Linked DNA regions of Homo sapiens. The protein of the gene in region 1 interacts with the protein of each later gene in a biochemical or structural test. Each region holds a gene or a part of one and is shown in the gene's direction. Other genes may lie near its edges.

Evidence for each region.
Region 2: the proteins of SAA1 (region 1) and SELENOS form a complex in vitro, tested with the Homo sapiens proteins (one study listed by BioGRID).

Annotation. Positions count from the first base shown.
Region 1 is NC_000011.10:18,264,904-18,269,270, forward strand, and holds the start of SAA1 (serum amyloid A-1 protein preproprotein), read left to right. Parts: upstream 1-1,360; 5' UTR 1,361-1,393; exon of another isoform or gene 1,394-1,540; intron 1,541-1,980; 5' UTR 1,981-1,984; coding exon 1,985-2,075; intron 2,076-4,291; coding exon 4,292-4,367. UniProt on the Homo sapiens protein: Major acute phase protein.
Region 2 is NC_000015.10:101,274,389-101,278,703, reverse strand, and holds the start of SELENOS (selenoprotein S), read left to right. Parts: upstream 1-1,218; 5' UTR 1,219-1,286; coding exon 1,287-1,362; intron 1,363-2,028; coding exon 2,029-2,163; intron 2,164-3,342; coding exon 3,343-3,449; intron 3,450-4,022; coding exon 4,023-4,112; intron 4,113-4,208; coding exon 4,209-4,284; intron 4,285-4,315. UniProt on the Homo sapiens protein: Involved in the degradation process of misfolded endoplasmic reticulum (ER) luminal proteins. Participates in the transfer of misfolded proteins from the ER to the cytosol, where they are destroyed by the proteasome in a ubiquitin-dependent manner.

The DNA of each region.
Region 1 (4,367 bases):
ATCCTGAGGCCTATATTCATAGCATTCTGAAAGAAAGAAAAGAAAAGAGGAAAGAAAGAGAGAGGAAGGAAGGAAGGAGAAAGAGAGAGGAAGGAAGGAGAAAGAGAGAGGAAGGAAGGGAGGAAGAGAAGAAGGGAGGAAGAAAAGAAGGAAGGAAGGAGGGAGGGAGGGAAGGGAGGGAGGGAAAGAGGAAGAAAGGAGGGAAAGAAGGAAGGAAGAGAGAGAGGAAGGAAGGAGGAAGAGAGAAGAAGGAAGGAGGAAGACAGAGAGGGAGTAAGGAAGGAAGGAAGGAGAAAGAGAGAGGAAGGAAGAAATGAAGGAAGGAAGGAAAGAAAGAAAAAATAAAAGAGTGAAAACGGACTGGAGAAGAAGAAACCACAGTTGCTGCTATATCCACCAGCCTCTCTGCATGTCCTGGCCTCAGCCCTGCTGGGCTCTGGTACTGACCACTTCCTTCCTTCCTAATTTCCTAATTGACTAGGCCAGCTGAGCAGGGCTTTTCTGTGCTGAGGAGGTAAATCTCTGGATATCTAGACTGAGGGGTGGAAGGAGCCTTCCAGGGCACACATGAGACATGGCAGGGGTAGGCTGCTAGTTTTATTTTGTTTTCTTTTAGACACAGGGTCTTGCTCTGTTAACCAGGCTGGAGTGCAGTGGCGTGATTATAGCTCACTGCAGCCTTGACCTCCTGGGTCTCCCACAATCCTTCCGCTTCAGCCTCTTGAGTAGCTGGGACTGCAGGTGCACACTACCACACCCGGTCCATTTATTTTTATATTTCGTAGAGACAAGATCTTACAGTTTTGCACAGAGTGATCTTAAACTCTTGACCCCAAGTGATCCTCCTGCCTTGGCCTCCAAAAGCATTGGGATTATAGGAGTGAGCCACTGTGCTGGACCTAGTCTGTCAGCTTTGAAGCTTTAGATATGAACTCAGAGGGACTTCATTTCAGAGGCATCTGCCATGTGGCCCAGCAGAGCCCATCCTGAGGAAATGACTGGTAGAGTCAGGAGCTGGCTTCAAAGCTGCCCTCACTTCACACCTTCCAGCAGCCCAGGTGCCGCCATCACGGGGCTCCCACTCTCAACTCCGCAGCCTCAGCCCCCTCAATGCTGAGGAGCAGAGCTGGTCTCCTGCCCTGACAGCTGCCAGGCACATCTTGTTCCCTCAGGTTGCACAACTGGGATAAATGACCCGGGATGAAGAAACCACTGGCATCCAGGAACTTGTCTTAGACCGTTTTGTAGGGGAAATGACCTGCAGGGACTTTCCCCAGGGACCACATCCAGCTTTTCTTCGCTCCCAAGAAACCAGCAGGGAAGGCTCAGTATAAATAGCAGCCACCGCTCCCTGGCAGGCAGGGACCCGCAGCTCAGCTACAGCACAGATCAGGTGAGGAGCACACCAAGGAGTGATTTTTAAAACTTACTCTGTTTTCTCTTTCCCAACAAGATTATCATTTCCTTTAAAAAAAATAGTTATCCTGGGGCATACAGCCATACCATTCTGAAGGTGTCTTATCTCCTCTGATCTAGAGAGGTAAGCAGGGTCGGGCCTGGTAGTACTTGGATGGGAGAACACCTGGGAATACCAGGTGCTAAAGGCTTTAAGAATAAAAAATAATGATCCTGCTTTGTGTTTATCCCATGTTGAGTTCTGTGCGGGGCAGAGGGAACACACGGTAAATGCGTTATGGGGAATTATAGGCTACTTGAGGGAGTGACAGTCTGGTGGTAACTCCTGCCTTCCTCCATCAGTGCCACGTTGGCATCCTCTTATGCAGTCAGGCTTCAGGGCTGATGGGTTCAGAACCGAGGGCTTCTGGCTCTGAGTGAGGTCCTGCTGCAAGGTTTCCTAGATGAGCCACTGAGACTCTAATAAGATCCAGTGGAAATAACCAGGCTCTCGTCGGAATATAAGTCCCAAGGGAAGCTGTGCCAGTCTTGTGGGCGACTGCCTGACTTCTCCTTTCATTTCAGCACCATGAAGCTTCTCACGGGCCTGGTTTTCTGCTCCTTGGTCCTGGGTGTCAGCAGCCGAAGCTTCTTTTCGTTCCTTGGCGAGGCTTTTGATGGTAAGGCTTCAGAAGGTTTGCAGGATTTCTGAAGAGAAACATCACCCTGGACCTGATAAACTGGGGAAAATGATGCTTTCGGAAGGCTGCTTTTGAACCACAGAGTTGCTAGTGTCTGCGTTGCTGAGGCCTGCCAGGAACTAGGGTTTGCTGGGTTGCCTGTCTCGAGTCTTTCAGAGCTGCTGGGAATATCCCCTTTCCCCGTAGTGCAGCTTCTCAGGATGTGTTAAGTGGATGGATCACATTTCAGAAGCCGCTGCAAGGTGTATCAAAAACACATCTCCTGAGCCGTAAGGGACGGGGCATCCAGTAACAACGCACACGGGGTATTTTTGGGCTTCCTTAAGATTTGAGCCGCTGCCTTAGGTTGTGCTGCCCAATGTGCCTGGGGAGCTGCTAAACAGATTAGAGAGTCGAGGATTGTTGTCAGTTACTCAGAGAAAGAACAATCATCCTTTCCAGGAGCACCTGAGCTGTTTGTTTTGCGTAGAAGATGCAAAATAAGGCCTGCAATGGGTATAAAATGTCCCTCAGCATAAATCGCATAGGAGTATGACTAAGGCTGTTGACTCTTCTGTCTTCTTTCTCCTTCCTCCTTCGATTTCCTAGTTGGATAATGTACAGGGCTCTTTAGCCTCGCTCTGTCAGGGGCTCCCTTCCTGGTTTGTTCTGTTTCCATTCTTCCTTCTCCAGCCTTCTTGACAAGAGCTGGGAACTAACGTGCCTCAAGCCCCCACAAGGACCACAGCATTTTCTCATTTAGTTTCAGAATGACTCTGTGACGCAATCTTCCTCTCTTGGAAGGTGAGAAAGCTGATCTTGGAAGGTGAGAAAGCTGAGACTTAGAGCAGCTGAAGCCAATGCCCAGGGACTTACTGCCAGTCAGCAGGTGGCAGGGCAGAGGTTTGAGCCCGGCTGTGCTTGAGGTCAGGGCTCTTGCCAGGTAGACGCATCACTGACCACCTCCTAGAGGTTGATGGTTATGAATCTCAGGCACACCTTGGCATCACCTGAAATACCCATGCCTTCAACTCCCCAGCAGAGTCTGCAGAAACTGGCCTGGGGTGTGGCCTGGGCACTGGGACTTTCAGTTTCTCTCTGGGTGATTAGAAAGTGCAGCCAAGGCTCACGCCTGTAATTCCAGCACTTTGGGAGGCCAAGGTGGATGAATCACTTGAGGTCATGAGTTCCGGAGCAGCCTGGCCAACATGGTGAAACCCCGTCTCTACTAAAAATACTAAAATGTAGCCAGGCGTGGTGGCAGGCACCTGTAATCCCAGCTACTCAGGAGGCTGAAGCACGAGAATCACTTGAACCCGAGAAGCAGAGGTTGCAGTGACTAGAGATCGCACCAGTGTCCTCCAACCTGGGTGACAGAGCGAGACTCCATCTAAAAAAAATGAAAAAGAAAGTGCAGCCAAGGCAGAGCACCACTGCCCTATTGCTTCCTCAAGCAACCCACAGCATCAGTACAGCCTACTAAGAAAGTATTTAGGGACTTTTATGCTCCTAACAGTCACTGGAACTCACGTCACAATGACGTGTATTCCATTTGCAAGAATATATACTTTAGGTCGGGGTGCGGTGGCTCACGCCTGTAATCCCAGCACTTTGGGAGGCCAAGGCAGGGGGATCACGAGGTCAGGAGTTCGAGACCAGCCTGACCAACATGGTGAAATCCCCGTCTCTACTAAAAATACAAAAATTAGCCAGGCGTGATGGCGCATGCCTGTAATCTCAGCTACTCAGGAGGCTGAGGCAGAAGAATCTCTTGAACCTGGGAGGTGGAGGTTGCGATGAGCTGAGATAGCACCACTGCACTCCAGCCTGGGCGACAGAGCAAGACTCTGTCTAAAAAAAAAAAAAAAAAAAAAAAAAAAAAAAAGAATATAAACTTTAGTAGTCAGGGCAGAAGTACTCTGTGTCTGCCACCTTTCTCAGCATCAGTATTCCATGTCACTACCTCATTCATACACACTCCTGGATCTTATCATAGGCAGCTTCATTCTATAGCAGTGGCTCTTCACCAGGGCACTTGAAGAAGCCAACTAGGATAAAGGAATGTGCTTCTCAACCCATGGTATCCAAGGCTGCTATGATCACAGGCTGAAAGCTTGAAGTCAGTGGAAGATTTGTCCTTCCTCATTCCCCTCTAAGGTGTTGTTGGAGTCTTTATGTTCTCCTGATGTCCCTTCTGCCTTTCCTTTCCTTTCCAGGGGCTCGGGACATGTGGAGAGCCTACTCTGACATGAGAGAAGCCAATTACATCGGCTCAGACAAATACTTCCATGC
Region 2 (4,315 bases), on another chromosome or scaffold:
AGCAAAGAGTGGTGATGGTTCATCACCTTTTACAACGGAAAGGCAAACATGAAGAAGGAAATTCTCCCTCCTAAAATTCCTCATTAAATCGATAAGCTATCTTCACAGCCTTTATGGATAACATCCAGAGTCCTCGGTTCATCTGAGGAGTCCATTTTCAAGGTGGCCAACAGGGAAGAAGAGCTTTCAGGCTTCTCTTTGCTATGGCTCATGAATGCCAGGTCCCCTTTATTGCTTTCTGAACACACTGCTGGGAAAGCTTGATGAGGTCAGTGCTCAAATCCCTGCAGCTGTCCCCCTTGAGGAACTTCTTGGCAAACCTGCATTGAAGAAACACTGATTGCGTTCACGCTTCATGTCATGGTTTGCCTTCCCCACACTGCTCCTGGCGACAGTGGTGACGCAGCACTCGGATGTTGTCACCTATTCATTATTTTTTCAGTTCTATTCCCAATTCCCAACCCTTCTTTTGAAACACAGCTAGGTATGTGCACTTCAAATGCTCCAGAAAAACCCAAGGTCACATTTCAAATAGGATGGTTATGGTCACCATAAAGGTGGTGACGTTTGAGTGGTGGAAGAGGGTGCGGGACGGCGTTGCAGGCAGAGGAACACAGCCAGGACACTATTATAAGTAACTCTGTGATCGTGTCTTGTGGTGATACAGTATAATTCAACACAGGTTAGAGCAGTTACTATGATCGTTCTTTCCTAAAAGGCTTTGATTTTGGAGAAAGAACCTTGAGGATCGGTGGGGACTTTCTTGGCCTGAAAGGTATCACCAGCAGCAGGAGCAGGAGGCTGCTCACATTTCGTGTCTTCACTTGGGGTGGACGTTGGCTGCAACCCTCAAATGCTGGGAGTCGTCAACCAACTGAGCCCTGTTGTCCAATGTGCCCCGGGCAAGGATGTGGGTGCAAATCCTGCTTCCGGGCGACCACTGACTTCCTTGGCTTCAGTGTCCAATTAGAAAAAAAAAAGAAAGTAGAAATTCGGTAAGAAATCCGTGAACGAGGTCCGTCCTCCACCCCCGACTCAAGCCAAGAGATAGCACAGAACGTTCCCACACGCGCTGTCCCGGCCCCGGCGAGCGTAGCCGGGATTTCTCCCCCGCCACGCCCCTCGGCCACGCCCCCCTGCGTTTGGCCCAGCGACGGGGCGGGGTCGGCCTGCGATTGGCCGGGACCACGACCGCGTCCGGGCGCGCCACGTGTGCGTAGGAGCGCACCGGAAGCGCCCGGCTGGAGGCGCGGCGGCAGGGCTGGGCGGCGGCGGCGGCGGCGGTCATGGAACGCCAAGAGGAGTCTCTGTCCGCGCGGCCGGCCCTGGAGACCGAGGGGCTGCGCTTCCTGCACACCACGGGTGAGTCGTTGCGGGGCAGCCGGGCGCGCGCCGCCACTTTTGCGACGCGCAGCCATGATGGGTGGGTCGTCCGCCGCTGCACCGGGCGCCGGAGCCTGGGAGGCCTGGGAACGGTCGGGCGTTGGCGCTTACGCGGACCTTGGGCAGCAGGCCCGGACCTTGCGCGGAGGCTTCTCGGGAGCCGCACTTCCCTGGGCGGCTCGGCTGTCCCTTGTTTGCGCAAGTCTTTTTTGCGAACCAAGCCCTTCCTGTGGTAGTTACTGGGGTCACTCGGCCGTTGGCGTTTGCCTCTGGGACCCGTCCCACACAGCCCCATACACACTCCTGACTCCCCGCGCTGTCACCCCTTTCTATGTGGCTCTGAAAGGCCTTTGCCTTCCTGATTCAGATTAGTTGCTCTTCATTCTTCAAAACCCAGTTGCTGTGCCCTCCACACTCTAACTGCCCCCGACTCCCCAGATGGTTGGGAAGTCTCACTTCTCAGTGATCCCTGAATTGTCGCACTTCTTGAGTTCGTGTTTTAACGATCTACTTAGGAGGCTTTTTCCTCAGCCTAGACCATGAAGGCTTTGAGGGCAGGAGTTACACTTTGTGTTTGTTGAGTCTTATGGAAAGGTCAACTAGTAGTGTCATTTTTAGTTTTTTGAAAACTGTTTTTCTTTTCAGTGGGCTCCCTGCTGGCCACCTATGGCTGGTACATCGTCTTCAGCTGCATCCTTCTCTACGTGGTCTTTCAGAAGCTTTCCGCCCGGCTAAGAGCCTTGAGGCAGAGGCAGCTGGACCGAGCTGCGGCTGCTGTGGGTTAGTGCCTGATAACCGAAATGAAAGCGGTGGTTTTGCACCTCCTTTATATTAAGAGTTAGTCTCTTAGTAAAAGTAAGAGGGGCCACACAGGAAGACCCTGTCTCTATTTAAAAAAAAAAAAAATAGCCGGGAGTGGCGGCACGCACCTGTAGTCCCAGCTGCTCAGGAGGCTGAGGCGGGATAATCACTTGAGTCCAGGGAGTCAAAGCTGCAGTGGGCTATGCTCGGGCCACACTACACTCCAGCCTGGGCAATTGATTGAGACCTTGTCTTTAAAAAAAAAAAAAAAAAAAAAGTAGGAAGTATATGGTTCTCGGTGGGGCGCGGTGGCTCACACCTGTAATCCCAGCACTTTGGGAAGCCGAGGCAGGAGGATGACTTGAGGTCAGGGGTTCGAGAACAGCCTGGCCAACATGGTGAAACCCTGTCTCTACTAAAAATACAAATATTAGTGGGGCGTGGTGACGGGCACCTGTAATCCCAGCTATTAGGGTGGCTGAGGCAGGAGAAATCGCTTGAACCTGGGAGCTGGAGATTGCAGTGAGCTGAGATTGTGCCACTGCACTCCAGCCTGGGCAACAGAGTGAGACTGTCTTTTCTTTCTTTTTTTTTTTTTTTTCTATGAGATGGAGTCTAGCCTTGTTGCAAAGAGCGAGACTCTATGAGTAGACGTTATGAATAGAAATGAGTTCATTTCTATTCATAATGCTATTTGGAAGGATTTTTCTTTTCTGTAGAAACAAATACTTAAGAATCTTCTGCGCTAATTAAGGGATGGATAATGATTTAGAAAACTTTATATTTCCTTGGTAGTCTTCCAGGATTCTAGTCAGCCTAGAGACTGTGGGTGTCACTGAGGTATCCAAGATGTGCTCTGTGTGGCCACTATCCCAGGCTTTATGAATCGGAATTGCTCAGGGGAACTCAGAAATTGGCATTTCTAACAGATTTCTGGTGATGTAGATATTTCGGGCTAAAATCCGTGGCTCAGCAACAGACCCCTGCCCCCTGAAGCAGTAAAATGTATGCAGAGGGGTTAGGAGTACTTATGTAAAAATATGTTGTTTCATTGTCTGATATCCATACCTCTTTATACTTTTAATAATATGGACACTCAAAAGTTTCTATTTTATATTGTACACAGTGCTTTATCTCCATTTTTTTCTGACATTTTAGAACCTGATGTTGTTGTTAAACGACAAGAAGCTTTAGCAGCTGCTCGACTGAAAATGCAAGAAGAACTAAATGCGCAAGTTGAAAAGCATAAGGAAAAACTGAAACAAGTATGAACTGGTTTCAGTTTGAATGTGTGCATAGAAATTGTCTGAGGTTTAGTGGCTAACGATGCCTGTGTCTGTGTTGTCTATAAGCTTCTAGGACCAGGTCCTATCCCATTAGATTCAATAAGCATTTCAGTTCCTACCATGTAAGTATTGGTGATATCAAGAAGAATACACGATTGTTAGGGAACACTAGATGTGTGAATATATTACCATGAAAGGTCCAGAGCACAAAAGGAGGGACAGGCTGGAGCAGGGAGCATGTGAGTGTGTGTGTGCATGTGCCTGTGTCTTCCCCATTACCAAAAATGTCCTGACAGGAGTGAGTTTCAGAAGAATGGAGTCAGTAATCTTTTTCATGAAACATTTTGCTTTCTTTAATAGTGTACAAAAACCAAAGCTGCTCTATGTGAGTTAAACTCACACTACCAGATCACAACAGTTTTATTAACTAAAGAAAACGAGGGTGAAGTTTGTTCTGAAAGACATTTAAATTAAGAATTATCAGAGTTAGCTTTGTCTTTGAGAGAAATGGCAGCTTCTGAATTCTTTCTGTAAAATGTGATTGTTTCTCAGCTTGAAGAAGAAAAAAGGAGACAGAAGATTGAAATGTGGGACAGCATGCAAGAAGGAAAAAGTTACAAAGGAAATGCAAAGAAGCCCCAGGTGACTGGAGACCTCGGCCGGCTGGCATGCGGTAGATGAAGATTGCCAAGTAGAATGTTTTAATTGCTTCTTACACTACTGTGTGTGTTCAAACAGGAGGAAGACAGTCCTGGGCCTTCCACTTCATCTGTCCTGAAACGGAAATCGGACAGAAAGCCTTTGCGGGGAGGAGGTAAGCACCACTGATGTCAAATGTTAACAGA